Linked DNA regions of Homo sapiens: region 2 is linked to region 1. Evidence: fine-mapped expression QTL. A gene starts in region 1. The other region holds a variant in brackets. All regions are shown on one strand. Distances are between the middles of the regions. Region 1 holds the start of ARL4D (ARF like GTPase 4D). Region 2 overlaps ETV4 (ETS variant transcription factor 4).

What was found. PIP is the estimated chance that this variant, and not a neighbour inherited with it, causes the effect.
Region 2: its variant is fine-mapped to the expression of ARL4D in whole blood (INTERVAL, PIP above 0.99).

What each region holds. Positions count from the first base shown.
Region 1 is chr17:43,394,775-43,403,096 of GRCh38, reverse strand. It overlaps ARL4D (ARF like GTPase 4D), which reads right to left and starts at 4,104. Exons shown (of 2, transcript NM_001661.4): 1 at 4,004-4,104; 2 at 1,960-3,436. The coding sequence starts at 3,364. The coding sequence ends at 2,759. It also overlaps the pseudogene RNU6-1137P. RefSeq lists an enhancer at 3,477-3,980.
Region 2 is chr17:43,527,373-43,535,694 of GRCh38, reverse strand. It overlaps ETV4 (ETS variant transcription factor 4), which reads left to right. Exons shown (of 13, transcript NM_001079675.5): 6 at 1,710-1,836; 7 at 2,347-2,508; 8 at 2,756-3,021; 9 at 5,514-5,588; 10 at 5,743-5,811; 11 at 6,019-6,191; 12 at 6,459-6,560; 13 at 6,952-7,849. The coding sequence ends at 7,176. It also overlaps a transcript of DHX8 not described here. Among named protein-coding and RNA genes, the nearest start is that of ETV4, 15 kb to the left of the region's middle. RefSeq lists an enhancer at 6,559-7,100. The variant G/A (reference allele first, on the strand shown) is at 3,376.

The sequences.
Region 1 (8,322 bases):
CAAAATGCAGAATCTCTGGGCAGGACTGGAGAGTGAGAGGTTCTCTCTCCCTCTCTCATCCTGCAGATAGGAAGTGATCCCTTCCCTTCCAGCTCTCCAGTCCCTTTGATGAGCCAAGGCAGGAGGATTATTCCAAAGCTCCTGACTCTGACCCGGCCACAATTTGTGGCTTTCTACTCAGAATTCCCCAGTGTTCCCCTCTCCCCACTACTCTGGCAGAGCAGTTGGCTTCTCCGTCTCTCTCTGACACAAGCCCCCATCTTCCTTTAGTGCCACCAGCTGGACAGTCAGGCCAGAGGGACTGGGGAAGAGCCTGGGACATTCAAAGGCCTCCTGTGGACCATGATCCCTGACCGCCCCCAGGGCTGGGCATGGGGAAGCAGAAGATACCTGTTTTAAGCAGGTAGGGAAGGAGTGTGGTTGGAAGAGCCAGAATCAGGAGCTGACATCTTGGAGGCCCCTCTGCTAGGGATTGGGGAACACCTCTGCACCTCTTCCCCCAAATCTGGAGACCTAAGTACACCAAGTGACAAGAAATGAAAATGTATAATTGAAGATTTTAAGACAAAAGAGCAGAATTTGGGTGGGGTGGGGAGGAAAGATCTCCTGGCAGGACAGAGGGTCAGTTCTGGCCAGTTCCTTTCCAGCCTGGACTGGGGCCTCAACCTGTCCTTGGGCTATAGGACTGTGCCCCAAAAAGACTGGGAGAGGAGTCGCAGGTGTGTCTGGGGGAGGGGCAGGTAGCACATGTTCCCAGCAGAACCAGCCCAGCAGTTCTGTCAAGCAGGCCCTAGCACTGACGCACACTTGGGCACCCTTCCGGATCAATGCACACTCACCCCAATCCTGCCAGCTACAGGGATGGGGAGGGGACCAAATCTGAGCTTCTGGCAGCGCTGGGTAGGAAGAAGCAAGTTCTTTAGGAAACCTTCCCCAGAAGTGGGGGTTGCCGGCACCTTCTCTTTCTCCCCAGGTCCTTTCATCTGATTCCGGAGAAGAGGAGACAGAATTGGGGAGAAGCAGGGTGTGAACGCTGAACCTGCTCTGGGGATTGTGTGTTTGCACAAAAGGTGGCAGGGGGTGGCTGGAGGGCTCGACAACTGGAAAGAATTGTGCTTGTTTTTTTTCTTTTTTAGAGACATGGTCTCCCTATGTTGCCCAGGCTGGTCTTGAACTCCTGGGCCCAAGCCATCCTCCTGCCTCAGCCTCCCAAAGTGCTGGGATTACAGGCGTGAGCCACTGTGCCCGGCCTTGTGCTTAGTTCTTACTCACTGCTCCCACCCAGAAGATTAAGAGGATCTAAGGGTTCTGTTATCAGACATAGCTGGCCCTGGTGCTGGTGAGTAGGGGCACTCAAGCCCTTGTAATATTAGCATTTTATTCTTACAATCACCACAAATACTGGGGGCTTATGTCTTCCCCCTTCTATCTTGGAGTCTGGAGGGTGTATGTCCAGCAGTCCTCTCTGCCACCAAGCACAAACAGCTACTACTTCTGCCCCTCTCGTGAGAAGAGCTACCATTCCCAGAGCTGGAAAACTCATGGCTTAGTCACCAGGGCCAGGCTGGCTCAATCCAGCCCAGGCCTCCCTAGCACCAGCCGCTGCCATCATGCCAGTGAGCCAGTCAGCAGGATTGAGTACACAGAGGTGACTTAAGGCCAGGGAGGAATTACTTTCCACTCTCACCACATCTTACAAGGAGGAAAAAAATCAAACCAACCTAAGACTGGGGAAGTGGGGAGGATGGGAACAGAATGGCTCTTTGAGGACTTACCTATATAGACTTAGGTGTCACCAAGGTCAAGAACCTAGGAGTAGCTCAGACTAGCAAAATTTGAAGTTAAATCTGCAAGGAGCAGTTGATATAAGGGACAAGTAAGACCCAGAGGATGAGGGGAGGGGTGTTAAATCAGAGAAAAAGGAAGTGACCCCACCCAAAAAACTACAGAGATCAGGCAATAGCTTGAGGGGTTTTCCACTCCCCCCTATAATTTTCACAAGCCATCCCGTAACACACAATCTAATTTTTATAAGTGCTTGCTTTGCAAATTCAGCTTCAAGATAAATCTCCCTCCCCCTGCGCCACAACCCCATATAGAAATCTTGAATTGTCTCTGGGGCAAGATAAGGAGAGGAAAATGCCCCAGACCAAGGTAAGAGCTACAGTTATCAGTCTTTAATAACTTACAGGCAAATGCTAAAAAATAGTTAATAACAATAATACAGAGGACACACACAGCTTATAAAAAGGGTCATGGATCTACAAATGTGGGGAGGGGTTCTTGGCACTTTCACAGACACAAAAATAAAAACTATGTGACTGGTATTCCTAGAAAAGCAGCCTGGGGAGACTCCCCAGTTGGGGGACAGAGGAAGGGGAGATAGTTATTTCATCCCAAACACATTCTCCAAGTCACTTCCATCCCCCCGCCCCCAAACACATCCAATTAAAAATTTTTAGCCAGAGAAGAAAAATAAGAAACAGGGTCGAGGTAGAGTCACAGTTTACATTTACGTCTCCACAGTCCTGCAGCGCCCACTTCTCCAGAGAGGATGAGAGAGATATGCAAAGACATCCCATCTCCCATCCCCACCCCAGTGTGGCACCAAAACGGGACACCCCATGCTCCTCTCTCCTTCATTGAGGTGGACAGGTCCTGCACCCCAGTCTGACTGAGAGGTCACAGGCTGGTCCCACCCTGCTGTCCAAGTGTGCAGACCCCTACTAGGTGGGAGGAAAGGGAGGGGGGGCTTGGGTCACCGTCTCTTCTTGCCACCCCGAGCTGCCTTCTTCCTCTTGAGGATCATCTCATAGAGGCGCTCAAGGCCCTGCTGCAGGCCCAGACCGTCCACAGCGCTGCAGCCTTGCACATGAGTGAGAGTGGCGGCTGCTAGCTCTCGGACTGCCAGCCTCTTCTCCACCTCAGCAGCGCTCAGTGCCCCGGGCTGGTCCTGCTTGTTGGCCAGCACCAGCACTGGCACGCCCTGGTTGTCCGAGGCCCGGCTGATTCGGTGCAACTCCACCTTGGCTTCCTCCAGCCGCTCAGCCTCCGCAGCGTCCACCACAAACACTAGACCGTCTGTCCGGCGGGTATAAGAGCGCCACAGTGGTCGCAGCTTCTCCTGCCCCCCGACGTCCCACACTTGGAAGGTGATGCCACGCGATCCCCCGAGGGGCACCCGGATCTTCTCGGTGTTGAAGCCTTTGGTGGGGACACTCTGGACAAACTCCTTGAACTTGAGGCGGTAAAGGAGGGAGGTCTTTCCAGCAGAGTCCAGCCCAATGACCACGACATGCAGGGCTTGGAAGTGGGGCAAGAAGGAGGAGGCAGTGGGCGCCATCTCAGTCAAGTGGTTCCCCATAGTGAGCTAAGGCGCCTAGTAGAGGCAGGGAGGCCTTGAAATTGAAGGTTCCAGGGAGCACAGCTGGGTTATCTGAACCAAGAAAAGGTCATGGGAGAAAAAGGAGACGTTTAATAATACACACAAGATTTGCAACTTCTTGATCCCTTCCTAAATCACCCTCCCATCCTTCATTTTTAAAATTCCTTTCCTTTTTTTTTTTTTTTTTAAGGCATAACAGAGGTGTTCCCCCACTCCCTGGGGGGGTCGTGAGGGGGGCGATGGGACCTAGAGAGACTCCCAGGTCCTGGGCCACTCAAGTGGGGGGTGAGGGCTCGATCCATGGACAGTGGGCTTCTAGAGCCTCTTCTCAGAGCTTATGGCGCCATCCCCCAGGCAAGATCCCCGAGGGACGGGGGAAGTCGACAGTGCCCCCAAACTAAGAGCTAGGGTGCAGACGCTGAGACCGGAGATTGAGTCCGGCTCCCACCCGCCCTCCGCAGCCCCAAGCCGTTGACACGGTGCCCTTCCTTACTCCGCGACCCTCGCCCCACCGCCCCGCGACACTCTCCTGCCCGCCCGCCCTCCTCCGATGGCCGACCCCAGCTCCAGCGGCCCGGCACCGGGACCGCCTCAGCACGGTCTGCAGGGTCCGTTTACCTCTCGTGAGCCGCGCTCTCCTCGAGCCTTTCCCGGTGAAACACCGCAGCCGCCCCGCGAGACCCCCGCAGACACCCACCGCGCCTCCAACCGCTGCCTCTGCAGAGCCTGCCTAGGGTTCGGCCTTAAAAACCCGCGTGTGACGTCACAAGGCGCGGGACAATCAGCGGCGGCGGGGCGGAGCGTGGAGCTACGGGCGCTGCAGCCCCCACCATACGCGGAGGGGCGTTTGCTTAATCCGTGGCTGCTCTATTTGACCTTTTCTACCACACTCTAATATTTGGAATTAAACTTGGAATTAATGCAGAATGGAGGGTGGGAGGGGCGAAAGGAACGTGCCTGGCAACGTTTGACTCGGGAGGAAAGATATGAATACCCTAATATTCTCACTACCATCGCATCCCCCTCCACCAGGCCGAGATACCACCCCACATGGACACTCCTTCGGCCAAAGGATCTACTCGGAGAGGCTGACAAGTCTTTCTCCTTTATCTTTCATAATTCAATTGTCAAACCTAAGGTGAACCTGGAGCCCCATAAAACAGCTGCTTCATAGTGCTAAGCCCATTATCTGCAATAGCCTGTTAGGGACTGTTGTCTGCCTTTTACAGATACACAAAGCCCTGAAGGGTTAAATGACCTATTTGAGGTTACACTCAACAGTATGTTTAGGCGCAGTGGATCATACCTGTAAACTCAGCACTTTGGGAGGCTGAGGCAGGCACATCACTTAAGCTCAGGAGTTCCACCAGCCTGGACAACAGGGTGAAACCCCATCAGTAATAAAAAGACAAAAATTAGCCGGGCGTGGTGGCGGGTGCCTGTAATCCCAGCTACTCGGGAGGCTGAGGCAGGAGAATCGCTTGAACCCGGGAGGCGGAGGTTGCAGTAAGCTGAGATAGCGCCACTGCATTCCAGCCTGGGCGACAGAGCAAGACTCTGTCTCAAAACAAAGCAAACAAAAAAAAAAAACCAGTGTGTTTATTGGGCTGGGCACGGTAGCTCACGCCTGTAATACCAGCATTTTGGGAGGCCGATGTGGGCGAAGCACCTGAGGTCAGGAGTTCGAGACCAGCCTGGCCAACATGGTGAAACCCCGTCTCTACTAAAAATACAAAAATTAGCTGGGTGTGGTGGCGGGCGCCTGTAATTGCAACTATTCGGGAGGCTGAGGCAGGAGAATCACTTGAACCCGGGAGGCGGAGGTTGCAGTGAGCTGAGATCACACCATTGCACTCCAGCCTGGGCAACAGAGCAAGACTCTGTCTCAAAAAAAACAAAAACAAAACAAAACAAAACAAAAAACACTGTGTTTATTGACCTCATTCATACTGTGTGCTCTGAATGAGACAGAGAGATGGTGGAGAAATAGAGGATGTCTCGGCTGTAGAATCAGGCCTCAAAGGGCTTAAGACTTAAGACTGGCAATGACAGAATGAGACAGCACATGTATTGGGTCTTTGTAAATCATGAGATAGCACTTGTAGGATTTCAGAGAAGAGAGAGAATGTGTCAACTGGAAGCTTCTGAAAAGGTTTATAGACGTTCTTTAGCCCTATCTAGGACTGGTTAGGAGGGGCACAGGAATGAGTAGGGTCTCCCCAGCCACTGCAGCCTGCTACAGTCTGGGCAGCCCTGAAAGGAAGGAGATGTCACAAAGGGCAGTGTGACCAAAAGGACAACAGCAATTAGGTGGGGGAGAGAAGAGGGCCAATCAAAGAAGAATGAAATTGTAAATTGTAACTTTATCTATTTATTTATTTATTTATTTATTTATTTATTTTTGAGACAGAGTTTTGCTCTTGTTACCCAGGCTGGTGTCCAATGGTGCGATCTCGGCTCACTGCAACCTCCACCTCCCAGGTTCAAGCAATTCTCCTGCCTCAGCCTCCCGAGTAGCTGGGATTATAGGCATGTGCCACCACGCCCGGCTAATTTTGTACTTTTAGTACAGACAGGATTTCTCCATGTTGGTCAGGCTGGTCTCGAACTCCCGATCTCAGGTGATCCGCCCGCCTCGACCTCCCAAAGTGTTGGGATTTACAGGCGTGGATTATTTTATTTATTGTGTAATTCAGTATTAATCTTTTTAAGGGCTATGTGTGAGAGGGATTGGAAAAAGGAGAAGGGAAGTCATTGCCAGACAGCACGGCCCAGCCTTTTCCTGCCCACCCTCCTCAATCAAGTGCTGATAAATAAGCTTCCCATCTGTTTGTCACCAGTGTGCTTTGCCACCTCCTTTTTCTCCCCTCCACTACAAAACCAGCCACCTGGTTTCCCCAGCAATGCAGGGAGCCTCCCCAAATCCCTAAAGACCTTAGGAAATTAGTCTAAGATTAAGACCTTAGGAAATTAGTTTGTTACACCCCAAGTTGGAGGGTGACAGGTTGCAGCAGCAGCTAACGTACAGGAGACAGACCTGAGCATGGTGAAGTTAGGAGAGGGGAAGACGGAGCAGGCCCAGCGGTTGAGAACCACTGCACTGTTGAGTGGCCACTGCATGCCAGGCTCTGGTCTAGGAACTTTGCTTACTTTTCCTTTTTTAATACACAAGTCAAGCCCATGAAGTAAGTATGGTTAGTCTAAAAAGAAGAAACTGAAGCACAGAAAGGTTAGGTAATTTGTTGAAGGTCATCCAGCTAGAAACTGGCCAAACCTGGCTTTGAACAAATGTTACAATGGCTATGAGACTGAAAACACACAAAAACTGAAAATACACAAGTTGTCTTGTTTCTTCCACAATCTTTGAAGCTTCTTTAACATGGCTCCTATAATCTGTCTTGGGACTCACATCCAAGACAGAAATTGTCACTTATCTGATAAAGGAAATGAAACTGACAATCCTACCCCACCCTTCCGTCTTTCATGTTTGCCAGAGAAGGTGTTAATGAACAAATGGGAAGGAGAAGGTGGGGCTGGGGAGGGGTAAAAAAAGGGGCCCAGCTCGTCCAGGTAGCACTAAGCTATGGGCTTACACTAATCCCTGCAGAGAACATCTGAACATTTGTACATTAAGCAATCATTTTTTTTTGAACGATACAGAAATTAGCATGGCCCCGTGCAAGGATGACTTGCAAATTCATGAAGCATTCCCTATTTTTTCAAAATTAAAATAAAAATAATTTTTTTTTTTTTTGAGACGGAGTCTCGCTGTTTTGCCCAGGGCGGACTGCAGTGGCGCTATCTCGGCTCACTGCAAGCTCCACTTCCCGGGTTCATGCCATTCTCCTGCCTCAGCCTCCCGAGTAGCTGGAACTACAGGTGCCCGCCACCGCGCCCAGCTAATTTTTAGTATTTTTAGTAGAGACGGAGTTTCACCGTGTTAGCCAAGATGGTCTCAATCTCCTGACCTCGTGATCCGCCCGCCTCGGCCTCCCAAAGTGCCGGGATTACAGGCATGAGCCACCGCGCCCGGCCTTTTTTTTTTTTTTTTAAAGACAAGGTCTCACTCTGTCACCCAGGCTGGAGTGCAGTGGCGAGACCATAGCTTACTGCAGCCTTGAACTCTTCGGTTCAAGAGATCCTCCGCCTCAGACTCCTGAGTAGCTGGGATTACAGGTGCGTGCCACCACATGTGGCTGGAGAACTACTTTAGATTGGTGGAAGAGTGTGCAGGAGAAAGTTTCAAAGCGGCGACGCTGAGCCAAGGTTTAAGTGACACTGAGTCAGATAAGCATCATTCTTCCTCAGAGCTGTCTCCTCCACCAGACTACGTGATCAAGGGCAGCAGCTGGTTCTTATCTGTAGCTCTACCATGCCCAGCACCATGCCTGGCACACATAGGCAGTCAGAAAATCTTGTGTGAATTAATGAATGCATGATGGAATAAATGTACTCAGAGGGCTCCCTGAGTAGGAGAACCAAACCTCCACCCTTAGCGTGGGAGTTTCCCAGCCTGGGGTCCTTGGGCCCTTGGGCCCTTGGGGGTTCTGTTGATACTGGGTTGGCCAGGAATTCCTACAAACCCTGCATTTCTAGGCAGTGTCTGAGTAGTATAGAACTCTCAGGCCTTTATTGGAGAGGAGGAACTTAAAGGAGAAAAACAAGGACCAAAAATGGGGATGACACTGGAGAGACAGGTTGCCCTTAGGACATGCTGGAACACCAGACTGAGATTCAGTGCGTGAGTCCCATCCTTCCATTCCTCACTAGTAGAGTGACTTGAAAAAGTAAAAAGCCACTTCCGGCCGGGCCCAGTGGCTCGCGCCTATAATGCCAACACTTTGGGTGGCTGAGGCGGATGGATCACCTGAAGTTAGGAGTTCAAGACCAGCCTGGCCAACATGTTGAAACCTCGTCTCTACTAAAAATACAAAAAA
Region 2 (8,322 bases), 130 kb before region 1:
GGCCAGGGATACTGCTAAAAGCATCCTATGATGCTCAGGACCGCTCCTTACAATATTATTAATAAAACACTATCTGGCCCACAGGTCAGTAGTGCCACTGTTGAGAAACCCTGCTTTAGGCTGGGTGTGGTGGCTCACGCCTGTAATCCCAGCACTTTGGGAGGCTGAGGCGCGTGGATCACATGAGGTCAGGAGTTTGAGACCAACCTGGCCAACATGATGAAATTCCGTCTTTACTAAAATACAAAAATTAGCCGGGCATGGTGGCGTGTACCTGTAATCCCAGCTACTCAGGAGGCTGAGGCATGAGAATCGCTTGAACCTGGGAGGCGGAGGTTGCAGTGAGGCAAGATTGAGCCACTGCACTCCAGCCTGGGTGACAGAGCGAGGCTCCATCTCAAAAAAAACAAAAACCAAAAAACAAACCCTGCTTTAATGTCAGATACTTTGCTGTCAACTGTCTTCACCAGTGAAACAATGGGGCACAAAGAATCAAAAACAGCAGAGAATAGTTGGTTACAAACGGCATTTGACTGGACTGCGGTTAAAACTGAATCTCACACCGGCTTGGAACCAACTCTTTGCTGCTCAGCCTCGTGGCCAGAGTTTGGGAACCCCGCAGGGGCCACAGGAAAGGCCAGTGTTCTTCACAGATAAGTAGGAGCATGTGTATAATGTTAGTCAGCTGACATTCAAGTGGGCCAATATCCAACCTCAACCAGAAAAAGAAAGATTCTTTTATTTATTTATTTAGAGACAGAGTTTCACTCTTGTTGCCCAGGCTGGAGTGCAATGGTGTGATCTCGGCTCACTGCAACCGCTGCCTCCCAGGTTCAAGCAATTCTCCTGCCTCAGCCTCCCGAGTAGCTGGGATTAAAGGGATGTGCCACCACGCCCGGCTAATTTTTTTGTATTTTAGTAGAGATGGGGTTTCTCTATGTTGGTCAGGCTGGTCTTGAACTTCTGACTTCAGGTGATCCGCCCGCCTCGGCCTCCCAAAGTGCTGGGATTACAGGCGTGAGCCACCGCGCCCGGCCAAGAAAGATTCTTTATATCCTCAAATAAGAAAACATGTCACTCCCCTGGAATTTTCCAGGGCACTCAGGAAAACTACAGGCCCTAGGTTGGAGGTGCTCACTCCTTGAAAGTGTTTTCTGGGGCCTGGGGTTGCATTAAATGTTTTTGTTTTTTGTTTCTTTTTGAGACGGAGTCTCGCTCTGTCACCCAGGCTGGAGTGCAGTGGCATGATCTCGGCTCACTGCAATCCCCGCCTCCTGGGTTCAAGCAATTCCCTTGCCCCAGCCTCCTGAGTAGCTGGGACTACAGGCATCCGCCACCATCCCCGGCTAATTTTTTTTTGTATTTTTAGTAGAGACAGGGTTTCACCATGTTGGCCAGGCTGGTCTTGGACTCCTGCCTCCCAAAGTGCTGGGATTACAGGTGTGAGCTACCGTGCCCAGCCTAAATGTTGAACTTTAGATGGTTTATTTAGTCAATAATCAGACACTAGTCTGATGTATAAACTAGACATAATGTAAATAGCCAAAATGTTCTTGTCTCACTGCGGGTCTCAGAAAATTGATACCCAGAGAGGGAAGGAGGCTGTACCAGTCACCCAGCTGGTCCTCAAAGCTCAGAAGGTATCAGAAGCCCTGCCTGCCTCTTGTGTGACAGGCTCTGGCCTTGCTCTGTCCCCTCCACCCCCACAGTAGCTTTCCACAGCCCCACCACCAGGATCAAGAAGGAGCCCCAGAGTCCCCGCACAGACCCGGCCCTGTCCTGCAGCAGGAAGCCGCCACTCCCCTACCACCATGGCGAGCAGTGCCTTTACTCCAGGTGAGCCCCAGCCTGGACCTGGTGAAGGGTAGGAGAAGGGTTCCAGAGGAGGGAGGCAGGGGGCACCCATGAGCAGAGGCAGCAGCTGAGATGCAAGTTAGACAACAGAAAGGATTTTCTAGCACTTGTAAGGAAGCAATACAGCTAAGGATTTCCTCTGAATAGACGGAAAACGCAGCAGAGGGCCTCAGGAATATATACTGAGGCCAGAGCAGATTCTGTTTCCACCAAGAGGCCCACTGTCCCACCTAAACCATTGCTCTGAGCAACAAATCCCCCCTGTATGAATCCCAGGGGTTCAAGACTAGCCTGGGCAACAGAGGGAGACTGTCTCTGAAAAAGAAAAGAATTGGCTAGGGCTGAGTCTGTGGCTCCTGCCGTTCCCTTCTCAGCCCCCTCTATCCTTCCTTCTCCTGTAATCCCTGTGACCTCGCTTTCCTAGGAATGAAGGGTTCAAAGATGCTTTCCAGCTTCTCTGCCCCCTCACCCCTGTCTCCTTCTCAACTCCAGTGCCTATGACCCCCCCAGACAAATCGCCATCAAGTCCCCTGCCCCTGGTGCCCTTGGACAGTCGCCCCTACAGCCCTTTCCCCGGGCAGAGCAACGGAATTTCCTGAGATCCTCTGGCACCTCCCAGCCCCACCCTGGCCATGGGTACCTCGGGGAACATAGGTAAGGAGACAGGGAAACCCACTGCTCATGGGCCCAGGTGTTTTTTCAATTCCTGAGTGTTCTCCATAAAGACTTGAGCTGTGGGGTGGTAGAGGCAGGGGGCAGTGGAATAGAAAGGGAGAAATACTGACACCCCAACCCCCTACCCCCCATTCCGGAGCCCACTCTAAAAGCCTAGGAGTAACAGGCTCGAGGAAGGATTAATTTAAAGTTCTCTTCTCTTCCTTCTCCATCCAACCACATCCAGCTCCGTCTTCCAGCAGCCCCTGGACATTTGCCACTCCTTCACATCTCAGGGAGGGGGCCGGGAACCCCTCCCAGCCCCCTACCAACACCAGCTGTCGGAGCCCTGCCCACCCTATCCCCAGCAGAGCTTTAAGCAAGAATACCATGATCCCCTGTATGAACAGGCGGGCCAGCCAGCCGTGGACCAGGGTGGGGTCAATGGGCACAGGTACCCAGGGGCGGGGGTGGTGATCAAACAGGAACAGACGGACTTCGCCTACGACTCAGGTAAGAGACTGGGGTGGGGCAGGGTGGCATGTGATCAAGTGTTCAGTTAAGCCCAGAATGTCTCCCGAGTTTTTTTACATTGCTGTTTACCATTTCATACATCCAACCCACCCACCCACTTTTTTTCTTCATAATTTCAAAAGAATGTTATTTTTCTTTCTTTTTCTTTTTTTTTTTGAAATGGGGTCCTGCTCTGGCCCAGGCTAGAGTGCAGTGGCACGATCTCTGCTCACTGCAACCTCTGCCTACCGGGTTCAAGCGATTCTTGTGCCTCAGCCTCCCGAGTACCTGGGATTACAGGCACCAGCCACCGTGCCCGGCTAATTTTTGTATTTTTAGTAGAGATGGGGTTTC[G/A]CCATGCTGGCCAGGATGGTCTCGAACTCCTGACTTCATATGATCCATCGCCTCGGCCTCCCAAAGTGCTGTGATTATAGACATGAGCCACCTCACCCGGACAAATTATTACTTTTCAATGAGCAAACCTATATTCAGATTAAAAGATAAGGGGGGCCCCCGGGGCATGGTGAGTCATCTGTAATCCCAGCACTTTAGGAGGCCATGGCAGGAGGATCGTTTGAGCCCAGGAATTAGTTCAAGGCCAGCTTAGGCAACAAAGTGAGACCTCGTGTCTATTTATAAAAAAGTAAAATTAAAATAAAGGGGGATGTAGATCCTGCCCTCAGGTAGCTTGTGACTTAATAGGGAAGTTAAGGCATTTATTTCTATTTAACAGGTGTTTGAGGTTTTAATTACCTATTAAGACCAAACTACTGTGACAGGAACACGAGTGTGCAGAGTTGGGAAATACAAAGATGAATAGGATGTGTCTGGTCCCTATCCCCACAGAGGCTTAAAAATACAAAGGGATTTGAATGAAGAGAAACATGAATTTGAAACTAGCCAGGCTCATGGTTCTTGCTAGTTCTCAATAGGAGGGCAGGGTTTTCTTGTTTTGTTTTGTTTTGTTTGTTTTGAGACAGAGTCTTGCTCTGTTTGTTTGTTTTGAGATGGAGTCTTGCTCTCTCGCCCAGGCTGGAGTGCCACTGGGTTCAAGCGATTCTCATGCTTCAGCCTCCCGAATAGCTGGGGTTACAGGTGCCCATCACCATGCCCAGCTAGTTTTTGTATTTTTAGTAGAGACGGGGTTTCACCATGTTGATCAAGCTGGTAGAAGCACAGGTTAATATGTGGCTTACATATTTGAGCCTCCCAATTGATGTATGCCCTGGCCAGAGGCAAGGGCAGAGGAAGTAGGGACTTCTTTAAATTCTAGTTCCACCTGGCTGTTGACTGGAGTGAGATGCACTCACCTGTGTTCATAAATAGCTATAGTTCAAAGCCTCAAGGGCCGAAGGAGGGCCAGTCCCAGGAAGGGTCCAGAAAACCCTGCCTTTTCTTCTTTCCTCCTGGCTTTTGTTACATTAGTAGCCCTAGATCTGAGTTTATTAGAGTAGGCCCAGAGCTAGCTAGAACTTTAGAATTTCCCTTTTTGTGGTGCCCACAACCGTTCAAGGGCAGGGGGATGAACCACAACCCCCCAGGCTGTCCAACTAAGAACCGGATGGTGCTCCTGTCCTCAAATCCAGGGCATAAGCCTGAGCCAGGCTTGGCAGTGAGCTGGGGAGAGGAGGAGGGAGGCACTCTTGCCGCTGACCTTCAAAGGCTGTAGACCGGAGGGGATTGTGTTACATGCCCTTGAACTCCTGCCCCTCCCCCCAGCTACTCCTGAATGGAGTCAGGAATTCCATTCACAAAATGGAGGCATGAATGAGCCCACCCTCCCGCCTCCTCCCGGAGGTGTCATGTTTCACCATCTTCTCATTCATAGGTGGGAGTGCAGTGGGGGGAGGGCGGGAAGGGGTTGGAACTTGAACGGGTGGCTTCACACAGCCGCCTTCCCGATGTGGAGTGGGAAGGTTCCTATCCTATGGAATGGAATGAAACGAAGTGGAATGTGCTCTGTTAGACCTGAAAAAACAAGGCCCAGTGCCCACTGCCTCTTCCCCAGGTGCATGCAGGCGCACGCTCTGTTTCTGTCACACACACACACACACACACACACACGCGCGCGTGCACAGGGCTGGGAACCTGACCTGCTGACCGGACATTTTTGTCCATTCTGAGGGAGTCTTAGGCGTGGACACCGAACTCTTTCCCCGGACGTTCATCTCACCCTCCCTCCTCCCCCTGAACTCGCAGGAAACAGCTGCTCCCTGGCAGCTTGGGCCCTTCAGAACAGCTTGCCCAGCCCCCGCTGCTGCCTTCCATGGCCTCAGCCGCAGCCCTCAAGTTGAGGAGGGGTTCCAGCATCACACTCCCTCTGGGTGAACTTTCCCTGGGATTTTGTGGTTGGCAGGCAACCTGGGCAAAGAACAGTCACCAGGAAGCAGGCTGGAAGGAAGAAATTCTTGAATGTGGATAGGACTTCCTCCTCCCCTGCCCTCGAGCTCCACCCCAAGCCACTTCTCACATCACCCCTTCTTCCCCCACAGATGTCACCGGGTGCGCATCAATGTACCTCCACACAGAGGGCTTCTCTGGGCCCTCTCCAGGTGACGGGGCCATGGGTAAGGCAGCCCCCCTTCCCCTGCCAAGCCCTCCATGTTGGGGGAGGGAGCGCTGCCATGGGGGAGGGTCTCCCTGGCCAGGAGTCCCTCTGGACTCTCTGGGGTCTCATCGGTGAACCCCCAGATCTGAGCAACCCCCAATTTCCTCCACAAGGCTATGGCTATGAGAAACCTCTGCGACCATTCCCAGATGATGTCTGCGTTGTCCCTGAGAAATTTGAAGGTCAGAGAAGTGACTGTTGATGGGAGGGTCAAGGTCTTATCACGCTGTGTCCCTGCAGGAGTCACATCACGTTTCATTGTTGCAAGAGGGTGGGACCCATAGAAAAGTACCTGGGGAGACCCCTTCGAGAAATCCCTCGGGTGGGAGGCGGTTGCTTGGGGGACCAAAAGACACAAACCCCACACCTCCTATTTTCGTGTTCCCCAGGAGACATCAAGCAGGAAGGGGTCGGTGCATTTCGAGAGGGGCCGCCCTACCAGCGCCGGGGTGCCCTGCAGCTGTGGCAATTTCTGGTGGCCTTGCTGGATGACCCAACAAATGCCCATTTCATTGCCTGGACGGGCCGGGGAATGGAGTTCAAGCTCATTGAGCCTGAGGAGGTGGGCCTCTCGGATGTTCCCAGCCCTCCTTTCCAAAGTTTACAGCCTGGAGGTGGGAGAACCTGGGAAATGGTGGCACGTGCCTCCATCATGATTCTTGCTTTACCTAACCTGAATTCTTGCCAAGCCTAAGTCTGTGGGCTGATGCTTTGTTGCAGAGCTAGCTTGGCACTTTGCACCAAGAATCTCAAGTGCTCTTTCTGACCTTACCCCCATTTTTTCCTCTGCCAAGGTAGCATCTCTACCCCAAAACTGTTTTGTTCCCAGGTCGCCAGGCTCTGGGGCATCCAGAAGAACCGGCCAGCCATGAATTACGACAAGCTGAGCCGCTCGCTCCGATACTATTATGAGAAAGGCATCATGCAGAAGGTGGGGGCTGTGGGTCTAGGGACAAGGTGGTGGGGGGCAGTGGCTGTGAGAAGCTGACTGGGGAGAGGGTCAGCAGGGCAGTTCTCAGCAACTTTGTAGGATCAGATAATGAATCAGTCAGAGAGACAAGAAATTGTGGAGAATCCCAAGGTTCTCCTCCCCCAAAAAAGTGCAACACTGTAACTGAGAAGCCCAAGCATGGAGAAGTTGAGATGAAAAAGGAGTAAGAACTGTGAAGGGAGAGTCAGCTTCTCAGGAACCAGCATGGGAGAGAAATGCCCCGAGCATCTGCCTGTACTGGTAGAAGGGCCACATTCCCCACTCCCCCACCTTACCCCATACAAAGGCTGGGCGGCTAGCCAGGCTGACCAGACCTTCTCTCTCCCCATAGGTGGCTGGTGAGCGTTACGTGTACAAGTTTGTGTGTGAGCCCGAGGCCCTCTTCTCTTTGGCCTTCCCGGACAATCAGCGTCCAGCTCTCAAGGCTGAGTTTGACCGGCCTGTCAGTGAGGAGGACACAGTCCCTTTGTCCCACTTGGATGAGAGCCCCGCCTACCTCCCAGAGCTGGCTGGCCCCGCCCAGCCATTTGGCCCCAAGGGTGGCTACTCTTACTAGCCCCCAGCGGCTGTTCCCCCTGCCGCAGGTGGGTGCTGCCCTGTGTACATATAAATGAATCTGGTGTTGGGGAAACCTTCATCTGAAACCCACAGATGTCTCTGGGGCAGATCCCCACTGTCCTACCAGTTGCCCTAGCCCAGACTCTGAGCTGCTCACCGGAGTCATTGGGAAGGAAAAGTGGAGAAATGGCAAGTCTAGAGTCTCAGAAACTCCCCTGGGGGTTTCACCTGGGCCCTGGAGGAATTCAGCTCAGCTTCTTCCTAGGTCCAAGCCCCCCACACCTTTTCCCCAACCACAGAGAACAAGAGTTTGTTCTGTTCTGGGGGACAGAGAAGGCGCTTCCCAACTTCATACTGGCAGGAGGGTGAGGAGGTTCACTGAGCTCCCCAGATCTCCCACTGCGGGGAGACAGAAGCCTGGACTCTGCCCCACGCTGTGGCCCTGGAGGGTCCCGGTTTGTCAGTTCTTGGTGCTCTGTGTTCCCAGAGGCAGGCGGAGGTTGAAGAAAGGAACCTGGGATGAGGGGTGCTGGGTATAAGCAGAGAGGGATGGGTTCCTGCTCCAAGGGACCCTTTGCCTTTCTTCTGCCCTTTCCTAGGCCCAGGCCTGGGTTTGTACTTCCACCTCCACCACATCTGCCAGACCTTAATAAAGGCCCCCACTTCTCCCATTAGTTCTCCTGTGTCCTCTTTGCTGCCATGTGGGAACAGACCTGGGGGTAGAAAGAGCTCTGGTCTTGAAGCAGAGCTGACTGGTTTGGGGCCAGGCCCTGGCGCTTAAATCCTCATGTAGATTTGAAAAAAGGCAGTTCACCTGACTGTTTCTCTTCTGAAAAATGGGCTTAATGATACCTGCCCTTCCCCCTTCCCAGCATTACTGTGTGAGGATCCAGAAATAATGGACAGGGGGTACTTGATAACCTGGACAGGCGCCCCTTGTGCACTTTGGGCCTGCTTCCAGCAGCAGTCTCCCTGCCCCTGTGGGCGGGTCAGGTGGGCTACTGAGTGGCAAGGGTCTCCCTCCTGGGACTTCCTCAGACAGGGTTTTGGTCTTTGGTTTCTGTGATCCCAGTTGTTCCCATGACCCTGCTGTCCCACATAGACCCCAATTGCATGTCCTCCCTCCTACCTCAGCTCTAGGTTG